Linked DNA regions of Homo sapiens: region 2 is linked to region 1. Evidence: fine-mapped expression QTL. Tissue or cell type: whole blood. Region 1 holds a variant in brackets; the other region holds the start of a gene. All regions are shown on one strand. Distances are from middle to middle.

Evidence for each region. PIP is the estimated chance that this variant, and not a neighbour inherited with it, causes the effect.
Region 2: INPP5B starts here. The variant in region 1 is fine-mapped to the expression of INPP5B in whole blood (TOPMed, PIP above 0.99).

Annotation. Positions count from the first base shown.
Region 1 is chr1:37,911,174-37,919,277 of GRCh38, reverse strand. All of the region lies in intron 7 of INPP5B (inositol polyphosphate-5-phosphatase B), which reads left to right. LOC124904043 (a long non-coding RNA gene) reads right to left here. Exons shown (of 4, transcript XR_007065876.1): 3 at 1,298-1,415; 4 at 622-987. Among named protein-coding and RNA genes, the nearest start is that of INPP5B, 32 kb to the left of the region's middle. The variant A/G (reference allele first, on the strand shown) is at 4,037.
Region 2 is chr1:37,942,349-37,950,452 of GRCh38, reverse strand. It overlaps INPP5B (inositol polyphosphate-5-phosphatase B), which reads left to right and starts at 3,400. Exons shown (of 24, transcript NM_005540.3): 1 at 3,400-3,463; 2 at 4,119-4,201; 3 at 4,603-4,697; 4 at 6,560-6,657; 5 at 6,784-6,813. The coding sequence starts at 4,145. LOC105378651 (a long non-coding RNA gene) reads right to left here. Exons shown (of 5, transcript XR_001737983.3): 4 at 6,541-6,718; 5 at 4,826-5,174. RefSeq lists enhancers at 1,169-1,842, 3,232-3,471, 3,049-3,578.

The sequences.
Region 1 (8,104 bases):
AATAGGTGCTCAGGAAGGGTAGAACGTGATCTCCACCCAGCAGTGACAGCCACACTCCCACATATCCTGTACAGACTGTGCTGATACTTTTGCTTGGTTATCCAAACAGATTTAAACCTTCTATTCACATCGTACTTACCCTTGGGAGTTTATAGTTTCATTGATGATGATGTCCTCATGCATGCAAAATGGGAGGCTGTGGGACTTTGGAGTCAAGCAGATCTGGGTTTTAATGTCAGCTGCACCATTTACTGGCTCTATGTCCTTGAGCATGTCTGCTATCTGCTCTAGGCCTCAATTTCCTTATTTGTAAAACAAGGCTAATAATCAGACACAATGCATGAAGCATTGAACGTATTACCTAACTATGAGAGGTACTTGATAAATGGTAGTCATCATTATTAAAGCAGTGGGGGATTAGGAGTGATGGAGAAGAGGGAGAGGAACAGTTCCTGAATGTCTGCTGTGTACCAGGCATTGTGCTAGGTTCGTGACCCATGTAGATTGTATTTGTTTATCCTTTTGAGGTCTCCGTAAATATGGTAGCATTACTTCCATTTTACAAATGAGGAAGCAAATTAAGTAATTTGTTTGAGGTTTCATAAGAGGTGATGGATGGAGTCAGTAACATCACCAGCTCTATTTTATTCCAAAGCCCAAGGCATTTTCCAAAACAGTCTAATGTTTCTTAAAGTGCCAGACACATTATATAGACAGGAAGACACTCAAAATTCAGAGAAATGACTACTGAGAACTTATGTGGCTGGGGAGGGCTTCATGAAGGAGGAGGTGGGAGTTGAGGCTGGGCTTCGAAGGAGAGGTGGCCAAAAAGTAGGAGTAACTTCATATGAAGGCAGGAGTGCGGATGGCATGTGTGAAGAATCTATCCTTTTAGATCAGGCTGTCTTTGGGTGATGGATTGATGAAGGAGAGTAGAGCCATTTGCAAAGGGCGTCAGATGCCAATTGAACCAGTTTGGGTCTTAACCTGTACAGGAAGATTTAGAGCAGAGAGATGAAATCAGAGTTTAATCAGGCCAAGTGCAGAGGCTAAATGGGTAGGGAGAAGTGGGAAGATCTCTTAGTTGGGAGACTCCTGAGGTAGCAAGTGAGGAGATGGTAGCCTGGAGGAAGGCAGCTGTGAGACTGAAGAAATGGATGACTAACTCTCTCTGGGGGGCCAAGGAGAGAGGTGAGCCGATGGCAAGACTGTACACCTGGCTGATAGGAAGAATGATGGTGCTGGTAATAGGCGGGAGAGCTCAGGGAAAGAGTCCAGAATCAGACTACAGTTTTACCTGGGTCCCCCCTGCATACAGAACGTCTTGTAGAAATGCCCAGGGGATGGTGGAGGTGCTGAGCTCAGACAGGGCTGGACAGCCTCATTCATAATCAACCAGGATGGCTGGTGGGTTCCTTGTAGAAGAGGAAGAACAAGGTCTAGATTTGCACTGTCCAATGTGCTAGTCACTAGCCATGTATGGCTATTTTATTTATTTATTTATTTTTAAGAGATGGGGTCTTGCTATGTTGATTGACTAGGCTAGTCTCGAACTCCTGGTCCCAAGCCATCCTCCCATCGTGAACTCCCAAAGTGCTGGGATTACAGGCTAAACTTAATTTAGGTAAAATCAAATTAAAAACTTCAGTTTTTTGGCTGGGCACAGTGGCTCATGCCTGTAATCCCAGCACTTTGGGAGGCCTAGGCAGGCTGATTGCTTGAGGTCAGGAGTTTGATAGCAGCCTGGCCAACATGGTGAAACCATGTCTCTACTGAAAATACAAAAATTATCCGGGTGTGGTGGCGCATGCCTGTAATCCCAGCTACTCGGGAGGCTGAGGCAGGAGAATTGCTTGAACTCAGGAGGCAGAGGTTGCAGTGAGCCGAGATCGCGCTACTGCACTTCAGCCTGAGTGATAGAGCGTGACCCTTTCTCAAATATATATATATATATATATATATATATATAATTATTTTTTTTTTTCCCCCGAGACGGAGTCTTGCTTTGTCACCCAGGCAGGAGTGCAGTGGCACAATCTCGGCTCACTGCAACCTCTGCCTCCCGGGTTCAAGCAATTCTCCTGCCTCAGCCTCCCGAGTAGCTGGGATTATCGGCGCCCACCACCATGCCCAGCTAATTTTTATATTTTTAGTAGAGACGGGGTTTCACCATGTTGGTCAGGCTGGTCTCGAACTCCTGACTGCCTGATCTGCTTGCCTCGGCCTCCCAAAGTGCTAGGATTACAGGCATGAGCCACTGGGCCCGGTCTCAAGCCATATTTTAAGTGTTCAATATATATTGGACAACACAGTTATAGAATATTTTCATCATCAAAAAGGTTCTATTGGACAGTACTGGTCTAGGGCTTGAGGAGTACCTACAAATAACTAAGGGGCCTCGAGGAGGAAATAGAGCAAAAGGAGGCAGAAGGAGCAATTGAATGAAGAAATAATGTTGCTGCCTCTCAGATGATTCTCAAAACAAATGGGGTATTTCCATTTTGGTTTGAATTTATTTATTTTTTCTTTGTATGATGGCATGTTTTAGAAAAAGCCCAGACTGGCTGGACGCAGTGGTTCACGCCTGTAATCCCAGCACTTTGGGAGGCTGAGGCAGGCGGATCACCTGAGGTCGGGAGTTCGAGACCAGCCTGACCAACATGGAGAAACCCCATCTCTACTAAAAATACAAAATTAGCCGGGCGTAGTGGCGCATGCCTGTAATCCCAGCTACTCGGGAGGCTGAGGCAAGAGAATCGCTTGAACCGGGGAGGCAGAGGTTGTGGTGAGCCGAGATCGTGCCATTGCACTCTAGCCTGGGCAACAAGAGCAAAACTCTGCCTCAAAAAAAAGAAAAAAAAAAAAATGAAAGAAAAAGAAAAAGCCCAGACTGCAGTGGCTCATGCCTGTAATCTCAGCATTTTGGGAGGTCGAGGTGGGCGGATCACTTGAGGTCAGGAGTTCGAGACCAGACTGGGCAAGATGGCAAAACCCCATCTCTACTAAAAGTTCAAAAATAAGCTGGGTGTAGTGGTGGGTGCCTGTAATCCTAGCTACTTGGGAGGCTAAGGCACAAGAATCGCTTGAACCTGGGAGGCAGAGATTGTAGTGAGCCAAGATTGCACCACTGAACTCCAGCCTGGGTGACAGAGCGAGACTCCATCTCAAAAAAAAAAAGGAAAAAGAAAAACCCAGACACCAATTCAGTGGTAGGCCTGGCTACCGGATGTTAAAATCAAGGCCTTGCTGCCTATCTTTGTTTTATAGGTCTGGGCCTTCAACAGATCTTATTTGGCTTCTAGAACACCTCTTGGTCATGCAGTGAGGGATACCCTCAAGTTAACTATGGGAAAAGAAGACAGCAATTGTATGAGGCAGACACTGTTATCTTATTCACATGAGGAAGCAGATGCTTAGAGAAGTTAGATAACTTTCTCAATATAACGTGTCTTTGACTCCAAAGCCTGTGTATGTATATAAAACACAAAAAACATGTTATTATAGCTAACTATAGGAAATACATATAAGCAAAAAGAAAAAGAAATCTAATCACTGAGAAATGACTACTGTTAACATTTTGCTGTGCACCCTTCCAGACTTTCCATGTGTCTGTGTCTGAGTCCATACAAATACAGCATATGTGAATATTTATAAGTGTGGTATCTATGCACACAGACATATACTCCAGTCCTTTCTAATGCATATAGGTATTGTCAGGCCATGCTCATTAACTACCATCCTCAATCCCTTATCAGCAGTTCTGAAGTCCTGAAAGCTCTGAAGGCTGGAACAAATTTTTCTTGTAAGTTTGACCCAAGCTCAATTTGGCAGTAAGACTTGCTTGAACTGACATGAGACTATTTATAGGCTTTGTTTCTCTCACTAAGTATTACTCTTCGTAAGTTATACTGTGGAAATATGAAAGCGTTTGATTAACTGGGTATTGCCTCAGACCCTGCTGGGGTTGTTATGTAGTATTTGATACAGGTAATGTGTTATCTTCCTAAAATCTCCCACATTCTGAATTCCAAAATGC[A/G]CTTGGCCCAAGAGGCTTCAGATAAGGGCTTGTGGGTCTATATTAGGCTATGTTGCTGCTTGGGCTGAGGAAGGCACCTCAAGGGTCAACACTGTCTATTTAGTGAGGCATGTGAGAGTTTTGGTTCTACACAATATGCAGTACAAAGCACAGAATTTGCAAGAAAAATAGAACACTTGCACTTTTACACATCGCAATCAAGCTGCAGTTGTTACTGTAGCTTGTTGACTTACTAGGTAGGCTGCTCCTAGGGAAATGGTTTCAATTGTCGGCATGAAAGGTGGTCAATGAGAGTACACAGAAAAATCACACTGAGCTTAATCTGCCTGGGGACTGTTTGTTTAGGGTGTGTTTACTGACTGCCTGGTGTGTGCCATATATTGTGGTGAGCTGGGGCCAGAGATAGCACATTGGTCCCTGCTTCCAAGAAGCTAGTGGTCTAGGTGTAGAGGTAAGACAGATAAGAACAATTAAACCCAGGTATGATCCCATTATCATAATGGAACCATTATCATGCCTTGATGGAAGTAAGCACTGAGTTATGTGAGAATGTATGGAGGGGGCCAGAGAAAGTTTTTTGAAGATAACTCCTGAACTGAGTCTTGAAGGATGAGTTTGTAGTTCATCACGTGAAGGTGGAATTGGGATATGGAAAGATATACCCAGGATCAGGGGTGGAGTGAATAGGCAGTGTGTGAAAAGGTAAGTTTGGTGTGACTGGATTGGGAGGTAAGAGAGAGAAGCTTCCAGTGGGGATGGGAAATGGGGCTGGAGAGGAAGTCTGAAGCTATTTATAAAGATCTTTTCATGCAATCCTCAGAGGTTTGGGTTTTGTTCCAAAAATTGTTACCGGAAAGGGGTCCCGAGCCAGACTCCAAGAGAGGGTTCTTGGATCTTGAGCAAGAAAGAATTCAAAGCGAATCTATAGAGTAAAGTAAAGGCAAATTTATTAAGAAAGTAAAGTAATAAAGAATGGCTACTCCATAGACAGAGCAGCCCTGAGGGCTACTGGTTGCCGTTTTAATTTTTTAAAATTTCTTGATTATATGCTAAACAAGGGGTGGATTATGTCACGTGCTTCCATGTGAAGAGTCCACCAACAGGCTTTGTGTGAGTAACAAGGCTGTTTATTTCACCTGGGTGCAGGTGGGCTGAGTCTGAAAAAGGAGTCAGCAAAGGGTGGCAGGATTATCATTAGTTCTTATAGGTTTGGGATAGGTGTACAAAGTACATTCTCAAGGGCGGGGAGAATATTACGAAGCACCTTCTTAAGTGGGGGGGTAGAATATATCCTATCAGTTAGGGTGGGGCAGGAACAAATCACAATGGTAGAATGTCATCAGTTAAGGCTATTTTCAGTTCTTTTGTGGATCTTCAGTTGCTTCAGGCCATCTGGATGTATACATGCAGGTCACAGGATATGATGATTTAGCTTGGGCTTAGAGACCTGACATTCCTGTCTTCTTATATTAATAAGAAAAACAAAACAAAATGGTGGTGAAGTGTTGGGGTGGCGAAAATTTTTTAGGGGCGATGTGGAGAGATAATGAGCAATGTTTCTCTGGGCTGCTTCGAGCAGGATTAGGGGTGGCATGGGAACCTACAGTGGGAGAGATTAAACTGAAGAAAGATTTTGGGGTAGGGGGTGATATTGTGGGGTTGTTAGAAGGAGCATTTGTCATATAGAATGATTGGTGATGGCCTGGATGCGGTTTTGTAAGAATTGGGAAACTAAACGGAAGACACAAGGTCCTAATAAGAGAAGGAGAAAAACAGGTATTAAAGGACTAAGAATTGGGAGGACCCAGGATATCCAATTAGAGAGTGTCCAAGGGGGTTCAGCGTAATTATTTGATTGGTTGGCGAGTTTTGGGGCTCTATCCTTGAGTTTTTTTATGTTGTCATATACCAGGCCAGATTGATTTAGGTAAAAACAACACTCTTCATTTAAAAAATGTTTTTTGTTGTTTTTGTTTTTGTTTTTTGAGACAGACTCTTGCTTTGTTGCCCAGGCTGGAGTGCAGTGGCGTGATCTCGGCTCACTGCAAGCTCCGCCTTCCGGGTTCACACCATTCTCCTGCCTCAGCCTCCCAAGAAGCTGGGACTACAGGCACCCGCCACCACGCCCAGCTAAGTTTTTGTATTCTTAGTAGAGACAGAATTTCACTGTGTTAGCCAGGATGGTCTCGATCTCCTGACCTCGTGATCTGCCCACCTCAGTGTTCCAAAGTGCTGGGATTGCAGGCATGAGCCACTGCGCCTGGCCCAGAGTCCCCCTTTTTTTTTTTTTTTAGCAGTGAGTAAGTCGAGGCCTCTGTGATTTTAGAGGAAAGAGAAATGCAAAGCCAGCAATTGTTTGTTAAAGAAGGTTTAGAAACAGCTAGGAGAGAGTGAGTGAGATTGATAGTGTGGTGGAGATAGCTGGGGAGAGGTAGAGGATGGCATAAGAATGGGAATGAGAATAAGAGTGAGTATAAAAGTAAAGAATAGGACTTCATCAGGGTAAAAGTATCGGAGGGTGCCCTGTCAGCAAAGTTCATCTATCCACTCTAAGAGGGAGTCAAGAGTGGCGGATTGGGGATAGTACCAGGAGATATCCGCTACAATGGTTTGGAGGAAAAGCGTAAACCAGCAGTGTAAACAAGGGCAGGGCATTTACAAGTAGTTGAGAATGGTGAATAGGAGTATGACTAGACAGAAGATAGGGATGACAAGTTTTTGGGGCACAGAACAAGTAGTGGGGGTGACTGCGTAAAGCCCTATTGCAAAAAGTAGGGTAAGGATGAATAGACCTAATAGAATGAAGGGTTGTATTAGGCTCATAAGGGTTATTACTGCTCTTCAGAAATGCAAATAAGTTTAAGGAAAGTAGGGGTGAACACTTGTGACTTCCAGGAGGAAGAGGAGAGATCAGGCTGGCTGTTTGACGGGCACAGCTTTATTCTGGAATGATGAACCTAATGGTGGGGCATCCTGCAGACGAACAGCCATTGGGGTACTATAGATGACTAAGTGGGGTCCAGTCCATGGAGGTTGTAGAGTTTGAGGGGTCAGATTCTTAACAAGAACTGATCATCCAGCTAGGGTGTCTTCATATGGCTGGGAATCTGGAGTAGGCAAGAGAAGATGAGCAGCCTAGCGAATTTCCTGTCTAGCCTGCTGGAGGACTGGAAGATAGTTGCCTAGAGGGCTGGTGTCTGGGACGAGGTCAGGGCTGAGCAAGAAAGTGCGTCCATATAAAAGTTCAAATGGACAGTACCCTGTAGCATCTCGAGGACAGGCTCTAATTCTGAGAAGGGCAAAGTACTGTCCAGTCCTGGCCGTGAGGGACAGAAGTTGGAAAGCTAGCTGCTTCTTTAACTACCTTATCAGCATAAGCGTTGCCCTGAGCAGTGGGATCTGATGCCTTTTGATGGCCCTTGCAGTGAATGACTCCAGCTTCCTTTGGAAGTAAAACAGCCTTGAGAAGAGTATTTATTAAAGAGGCATTAATGATGGAGGACCCTTGAGTAGTGAGGAAACCTCTTTCTGCCCATATAACAGCATGGTGGTGCAGGATATGGAAGGCATATTTAGAGTCAGTATAAATATTGACTCGTAGTCCTTTTGCAAGAATGAGGGCCCAAGTTAAGGCAATGAGTTTAGCTTGCTGAGAGGTAGTGGAGGGGGTCAGAGTGGTAGCCTCAATGATAGATGTGAAAGATACTATAGCATAGCCTCCCTTTGCTGGTGAGTGGCGATTAGGCCTGGTGGAACTGCCATCAATAAACCAAGTGTTATCAGGGTGAGGAACAGGAAAGAAGGAAATATGGGGAAATGGAGTGAATGTCAGGTGGATCAGAGAGATACAGTCATGGGGATCAGGTGTGGTATCCGGAATAATGTGGGAGGCCGGATTGAAGTCTGGGCCAGGAACAATAGTAACTGTGGGAGACTCAACAAAGAGTGAGTATAGCTGAAAGAGCTGGGGGGCAGAAAGTATATGCGTCAAGTGTGAGGAGGAAAATAGATTTTGAAAGTTATGGGAACTGTAGAGAGTAAGTGGAGCATAGCTTGTGATTTTGAGGG
Region 2 (8,104 bases), 31 kb before region 1:
ACTAAAAATACAAAAAATTAGCCGGGCATGGTGGTGCTGGGCGCTTGTAGTCCCAGCTACTCTGTAGGCTGAGGCAGGAGAATGGCATGAACCTGGGAGGCGGAGCTTGCACTGAGCCAAGATCTCACCACTGCACTCCAGCCTGGGCGACAGAGAGAGACTCCACCTCACCACAAAAAAAAAAAACAAAAAAAAAAACTCTGCCTTCCTCATTAGCTCCCCAAGTCTGAGCTTTCTACCTTTGGTGCCCCACCCCCTCTCAGATTCCCCACTCCTAACATCCCCACCATTCCCCAGTCCAGCCCATCCAGCACTCCCCTCCCCAACAAGCTACAAAGAGGCCTGGGGCAAGCACCTGTGCTCATCTAGGCCGTGGTGGGGGAGATGTCAGGTTGTGAGCTGCCCACACACATCATGCTCTCCCTGGGGGCAAGGCAGGGGGTCAGGGCTTTACAGAGGTGTCACAGCACTTCCCCAGGCAGTCCTGCTCTGCTCCTAGGCCTAGCCCACCCGACGATCCCAGAGGACAAGCTACATTCCATTCCACCCCTGGTGACCACCACCTTGCCAGCCCTCCAGGGAAATGTGTCTCATTCTCACCTGCCTCCTCTAGGAAGTGGAGGCAGGAATGGACAGCGTGTGGTGGATGGGGCCAGTGACACAGGCATGATAGGGCTCCAGCCTTGCCTCTGTCCAGCATTTACCACCTGTTCAGTCTGCACAGAGCTCCCAAACCTCCTCCTGCTTTCTCTTCCAGAAGAAAATCTGTGCTACTTTCTCCTGCCAAGGTGGTGACTGTTTCAAAGGGCCGAAAGCTGTGGCCATGTGCCCTGAGGGCTTGGACTTCTGTGAGGTGAGCCCTGCGATGCTCCAAGAATTAGGGAGCTCTCCTCCCTCAGAGCTGCATGGCTTTCTCCTTCTACCTGGAGTGGGTAGCTCAGCAGTAGAATCTGGCTGGAGCTAGACCTGCTGGGAGCAGCCGTGGGGTCTAGCAAGCTTGACCCCCTCAGCTCTGCATGATGCCAACACCAAAGGCAGCAACTGGAATTTTCCATACCTCCACGATGTGCCCCTTTTTTTCTGACCACCCTGTATGTTCACTAGGAACTCACTGATCTTGTGGGCAGGAAGCTAGGGGTCCAAGGAGGTTGAGCTCAACCCATGACCCACTTAACACTTTCTGCCTTTGAGTGGGGAAGAGGGGCAAGGGGAAGATGAATGGTCCCACCTCTTCTTGCAGCTGAAATGCTCCAGCTCAGGTTACATTGCAGGCTGCAGCCAGGCCTGTGAAGCAGGGACCTCCCAGTGTCATGGGGCTGTGGCCCCACCCTGCTACCAGGAGTGCTGTCAAGCCTCAACCTCAGGCAGCTGCCTTCAGCTGGATGGGAAACTTCACTTCAACCAGGCAGCTCCTGGGGCCACCAGAAACCCCCTGCACTGGGCCCTGGCTGTGGCTATGCTACTTCTCCTCCACTCTGCTCTGCTCCTATTCCTGCTCCCCTAGCTGGGCCCAGCAGAATCTGGGAGCAGCAGTCAAGAAGACCCTGTAGGATCTACAAGCCTTCAGGTCCCCCTCCAGCTCTGATTCCTGTAGTTGCATCTTTAGTAAAAGGCCTTTATCAAGCCCACAGCTCTGGGCTTAAGGCTCCTCACTTCTCCCCTTCTAGGGCCTAGGCCTGACCATGGAACCCCCCAAGGGGGCAGGCCCTCAGCCCTAATCTCAGGGAGAGGATAGGGTTTGTCTGGAAAAACAGAAAACCTCCTGCCTGACCCCCACCCAGTGGGAGGACCCCCAAATCCTGCAGGGACAGTTTCTTCATCATAAAAAGCACACAGCCCCATCTACTTTGCCCAGACCCTCCTCGCCAGGCTTTGACACTAGAGCAGGGCTGGAATTGGGGTTCCTCTGCTTCCCTGCAGTGACCCCACCCCTTGATCCTAAGGGTCTGAGTCAATCCCCTTTCCCCTCATCGTCCACATGACTTAGACACTGAATTCAAATAAACTTGAGCTCCATTTGTGCTGTGGATGTTTCCAGGAAAAGAAATGGATTGAGAAGAAGGCAACGACTGTTTCTGGAAGGGGTTTACATATGCAAAGTTGAACTGGTCATTAGGATGGCCACTTCACTTGGGGAAAGAGGAAGGGAAACTGTTCACAAGTCACAACAGTCACCCCCTCCCCAGCACTGAAGGCCCATTCCTTCAGTTTGGGCCAAAGCTTGAGAGAAGGTGTATTTATTAAAATAGTTCAGAAAGTAATTCACTAACTCCATAGATAACTGTGTGCCAGAAACTGCTGGTATGTTGATGAAAAGGCATAGTCCTGTCCAACGGGAGCTTACAGCTTAATTAAACAGCCAATAGGCCAAGTGAGAATGATCCTAGCATTCCTTATCTGAGCTGGGTGAGCAATCACAGCTCACTGCAGCCTTGAACTCCTGGGCTCAAGCAATCCTCCCACCTCAGCCTCCCAAGTAGCTGGGACTACAGGCATGCACCACCATACCCGGCTAAATTTAAAAAAATTTTTTTTTAGAGATGGGGTCTCAAACTCCTGGCCTCAAGCGATCCTCCCTCCTTGGCCTTCCAAAGTGCCGGGATTACAGACATGAGCCACTGTGCCCAGTCCCTGTGCTGGCTCTTTTTGTCCATCTTGGGTAACCTCCTTATCTTAGATGGGGAAATTGAGTCCCAAGGGAAGAAAGGTCTTGGCCAAGGTCACAAAGCCAGGCGGATCAGGGGAAGGACGTTGCCGGACAGGAACAGTGTCATACCCTTTATAAAGTGCGTTCACACCCAGTAGCCTCAAACAGCCCTGTGTGGCAGGAGGGCTGGGTGGGGCTAAGGGAGGAAATAGGGCAGTGTGTAGCGGTATAAATGGCCCAGGAGTTGCAGTCAGACTTTCAGTGGAGTCCCAGTGTTGCCACCTGCTAGCTGCAGGACTTAATGTCAAACTGCTTAACCTATCCAAGGCTCAGTTTCTCCACCTGGAAAATGGACATAATGGTTCTTCATAGTCTGGTTCTCCCTCCATTAAACCAGGAGAAGGTAGTTATTTTAGGGGAAGAGTTTCAGTAGAGGTCCGGGTTGTCTACCCTGGAGTGAGAAGAGCTGAGGATGGAACTAAGGAGAAAATAAAAATGCATTATATTCTTCCCCTAAGATAAAATGTGACCATCTTCCTTCTGGGTGGGAAGCTCTGGCCCCATGACCTAGAGGGCTGGGGATGGGAGTGAGGGCAATCATTAGAAAACCTTTCTGGTATAGGAAGCCCAGTGTACCCCAGGGCCTAAGGGGTTAACACGGATGGAGAGACTCCCCACCCCACGATTGACTCGGGCATGCTGGGACTTGCAGGCTGACTGACCACCATGTGGCGCAGGGGCTGTTGGGAAATGTAGTCACTGTCCCGGAACCTGGGGCAGCGGAGTCCCGTGCGCCCTGTGGTGACAGCTCAGGAGGTAGGTGACAATGTCAGGGAGCTGTGGGTGGGAGCAGAGCAGGAAAGCCAGGGCAGGGCTGGGCAGGAGGGAGTGGGCAAGCTGAGGGCTGGGACACCCCCCAACCCCCGGCCTGCAGCTGATGCAATGGGCCTGCTGGGGCGGGGGTGAAGGGCAAGCAGCAATGGGACACTTCCTGTCTCCAAGGAAAGAGGAATGGGACCCTCCTGAATGACAGTAAGGGGATGTTCCCTGAACCCCACATGGACACACCACTGACACCTCCCAGAGAGGCGCTAGCAGAACAAAAACTGTCCCCAAAAGAGAGGAAGAGCCATGTCCTAGGAGCAAAGGGACTAGGTCCCCTTCTCCAATCCACGTACCCCACTTCCAACAAGGATAGACCACACTCAAGAGCAACTGGATGCCCTCCCAGACAAAGGCAGTATAGCAAACTGTAGATCCCAGCGGGGCAAAGGGACTGGACCCCTATCCCTAAAAACTGAAAGGCCTATTCTAGGGAGGACAAAGAGGAGGAGGAGGAGGATCAGGCCTCCCCGGTACCATCTCCCTCTGCAAAGGCCCCTCCCTCCTGCCCCCAACCCCTCTGAGGCAGCTCCACCACCCCATGCGTAACTTGTTGACCAAAGCGGGGCTCCTATCTCCCCTCCCACAGGGTGTGTGCGCTCAGCAGGGGCCAGCATGGACCAGTCTGTGGCAATCCAGGAGACGCTGGCTGAGGGGGAATACTGCGTCATCATATCCTTCCTGTGCTAACTGCGGCCCTGAGCCTGCCCTGGCCTTGGGAAGAGGAATGGAAGGTGTCGAGGTGTCTATCCCCTCTCCTGCCCCTCTGAACCATCAGGGGAGAAGGAAATCAGTATTTACTAAGTACTTACTGAGTCCTGGACTCTCAGCCAAATGCTTTAAATACGCAGTTATCCTCCTAACTCCCTATGAAGTTGGGGATTATTATCCTCATTTCATAGATAAGGAAGGCTTAGAGAGCCTGTTTGTCTGTTAGTTCAGCACATGGTTTGAGTGCTCACCCAAGGCCACACAGTGAATCTGGGGGGGCAGGGGAACAGAGGGAAGGTGGGACAGCCTGGGTGGGGAGAGGCCTCGCCTCTGGGTTGTCTTCCCTTGACTCTGAGCCGCAGGCGGTGCAAGGTGTGCTGTGTGAGGGGGACAGCCGGCAGAGCCGCCTCCTGGGACTCGTGCGCTACCGCCTGGAGCACGGCGGCCAGGAACACGCGTGAGTGAGGGGCTTGGTCCCCACCTGTCTGGGCCATGGGGTTGTTCATCACTGCACCCTCCAGCTGAACTTCAACTGTCCCTCCAGGGCAGGGTCTGAGTCTCCTAGAATAATTATCACAATGATAGTTAATATTTTTTGAACACTATATTTTAAACCCTGCACACGTACTAACTCATAATCCTCAAGATCTAAGGAGGAAGTTTCTTGAGAAGAGACAGTTTAACATACTAGTCCAGATCTTGAGCCTCGTGGTCCAAATGCCTGGGTTCAAACCCAGGCTTTGTTACTAACAAGCCACATGATCTATTGTTTGTTTGTTTTGAGAAGGAGTCTTGGTCTTTGCCCAGGCTGGAGTGCAGTGGGGTGATCTTGGCTCACTGCAACCTCTGCGTCCCAGGTCCAAGCAATTCTCGTGCTTCAGCCTCTTGAGGAGCTGGTATTACAGAGGTGCCCGCCACCATGCCTGGCTCATTTCTGTATTTTTAGTAAAGACAGGGTTTCACCACGTTGGCCAGGCTGGTCTTGAAGTCCTGACCTCAAGTTATCCACCTGCCTTGGCCTCCCAAAGTGCTAGGATTACAGGCATGAGCCAGCGTGCCCAGCCTCACATGATCTTTTTTTTAGAGACGGGGTCTCTTTCTGTCACCCAGGCTGGAGTGCAGTAGTGCACTCATAGCTGCATGCTGGAACTCCTGGCCTCAGGTCATTCTCCCACTTCAGCCTCCCAAAGTGTTGGAATTTTAGGCATGAGCCACCGCACCTGGTGGAACCACATGATCTTGAGCAAGTTGTTTTACTCCTCGATTTGTCCATATTAAAGAGTAAAGTGAGTTAGGCCAGGTGCAGTAGCTCATGCTTGTAATTCCAACACTTTGGGAGGCTGAGGCAGGAAGATTGCTTGAGCCTAGGAGTTCGAGACCAGCTTGGGCAACATAGCGAGACCGCCCCCCCTACCCCGCCCCACCTCCCGCTCCCCGGCTCCATCTCTACAAAAAATAAGAAAATTAGCTGGGTGTTGTGGTGCATGCCTGTAGTCTCAGCTACTCAGGAGGCTGAGGCGGGAGGATCACATGAGCCGAGGAGTTTGAGATTACAGTGAACTACGATTGCAGCCTGGGCAACACAGCAAGACCCTGTCTCTATAAAAAAAAAAACAAGAAAAAAAAAACGAACACCATGGGGTGTGTAGAAAGTGCTCAATAAGGCTGGGTGCAGTGGCTCATGCCTGTAATCCCAACACTTTGGGAGTCTGAGCTGGGAGGACTGCTTGAGTTCAAGACCAGCCTGGGCAATATAGTGAGACCCCTATCTCTATTTCAAATAATTTAAAAAATATAATAAATAAAAAAAAGAAAGTGCTCCATAAATGTTGTCTAGTAACACCCACATACCACACAGAAGCAGAGAGAGAGTAATAGTTGTCAAAGGTCTCATAGCTGGTAAGTGACTCAGGGTCTAGGAGCTGGGAGGGAGGGGGCCTTAGACATTTTCTGATCCATCACCCCAGTTTTACAGATGGGAAACAGGTTCAGGGAGAGAAGTGGGTAGCTAAGGTTGCACTGTTCCTGTCACACACAGTGCTAGAATGCACCATGGTTAGATCAAACATGTGTTTGTGTTTTACTAACAATCAGGGGCTCCTGCAGATGAGAAAAGTTCTGGTTTGATGACCTCATCCATAAAACTGCAGTCTCTGATGGGCACCACAGACAGAGATGGCATGAGGAGTGTGCCTAGCCAGGGCACCACCAGCACAGTGTTAGGGACCAACGAGCGAGTGTGAGCACCCCGAGACCTCCAAGATAGGGCTGAGGGACAGCCAGCGGGCCCCCATCCTCACCTCTGCTTCCTGCCCTTAGTCTCTTCCTCTATACGCACCGGAGGATGGCCATTACCGGGGACGATGTCTCTCTGGACCAGATAGTGCCAGTCTCGCGGGATTTTACGCTGGAAGAAGGTGCCACAGGGGGCTGGGTGGTATGAATCCTCTCCTATGGGCCCCCCAGCTCATCTTTGTCCTTGATGGGGGGGCAAGGGGGAGTAAGCTCAATTGCTAAGGGCATTCTCATTTCCCTCCCCACAGTGTCCCCAGATGGTGAACTCTACATCCTTGGTGAGTGGTCCTCTTGGTCTGGGTCCCACTCGGGGCAGGGGTGCCTGATTTTCAGAGAAAGAAGAATGGTGTAAAGTAAGAGCACCCCCTGCTAAACTTATTGCAGCAAGTAAGACCCTGTAGGATCTGGCACAGCCCATCTCCGTGGGCTCATCTCCCATCACTCTCCTCCTTGCTGCTGTTTCCGTCTCCCCCGATAACACACATTCTCACCCCGGAGCCCCTGCACACGCTGTCCTCTCCTCCTGCAAGCCTCACATCTCTTCACCTAGCCAACTCCTACTCAGCCTTCAGGGCTTCCATTCATGCATTTCTCTTCCCAGGCAGCCTTTGTTAAACCCCTGAAATTAGGCCAGGGCAGTGGCTCACGCCTGTAATCCCAGCACTTTGGGGGGGCCAAGATCACGAGGTCAGGAGTTCAAGACCAGCCTGACCAACATGGAGAAACCCCGTCTCTACTAAAAATACAAAATTAGCCAGGCATGGTGGTGCATGCCTGTAATCCCAGCTACTCGAGAGGCTGAGGCAGGAGAATTGCTTGAACCTGGGAGGCGGAGGTTGCCGTGAGCCAAGATCGCACCATTGCACTCCAGCCTGGGCAACAAGAGTGAAACTCCATCTCAAAAAACAAACAAAAAACCCCCAAAAAATCCTGAAATTGTTTTGTATCCCATGGATACATGTGTCTGTCCCTCCCTCCCTCCCTTCCTCTCTCTCTCTCTCTCTCTTTCTTGACAGAATCTCACTCTGTCACCCAGGCTGGAGTACAGTGGCATGATCTTGGCTCACTGCAACCTCCGCCTCCCAGGTTCAAGTGATTCCCCTGCCTCTGCTTCCCAAGTAGCTGGGATTACAGGCACCCGCCACCATGCCCAGCTAATTTTTGTATTTTCTGCAGAGGCGGGGTTTTGCCATGTTGGCCAGGCTGGTCTTGAACTCCTGACCTCAGATGATCCACCTGCCTTGGCCTCCCAAAGTGCTGGGATTATAGGCGTGAGCCACCACACCTGGCTTGCCTTTTTCTTATTTTTGCCAGCCTCTCTCAATCAGTGATGTAATTCTTTATATTGACATATTTAATGTCTGTCTGCTTTGCTATACAACAATAATAATAATAGAAGCAAATAATGAGTTAATGATTATCCCACGCCAGCATTGTGCTAGAAGTTTTACATACACCAAATCACGCTTTTCTCTTTTTTGTTTGAGACAGAGTCTCGCTCTGTTGCCCAGGCTGGAGTGCAGTGGCGCGATCTCGGCTCACTGCAAGCTCCACCTCCCGGGTTCACGC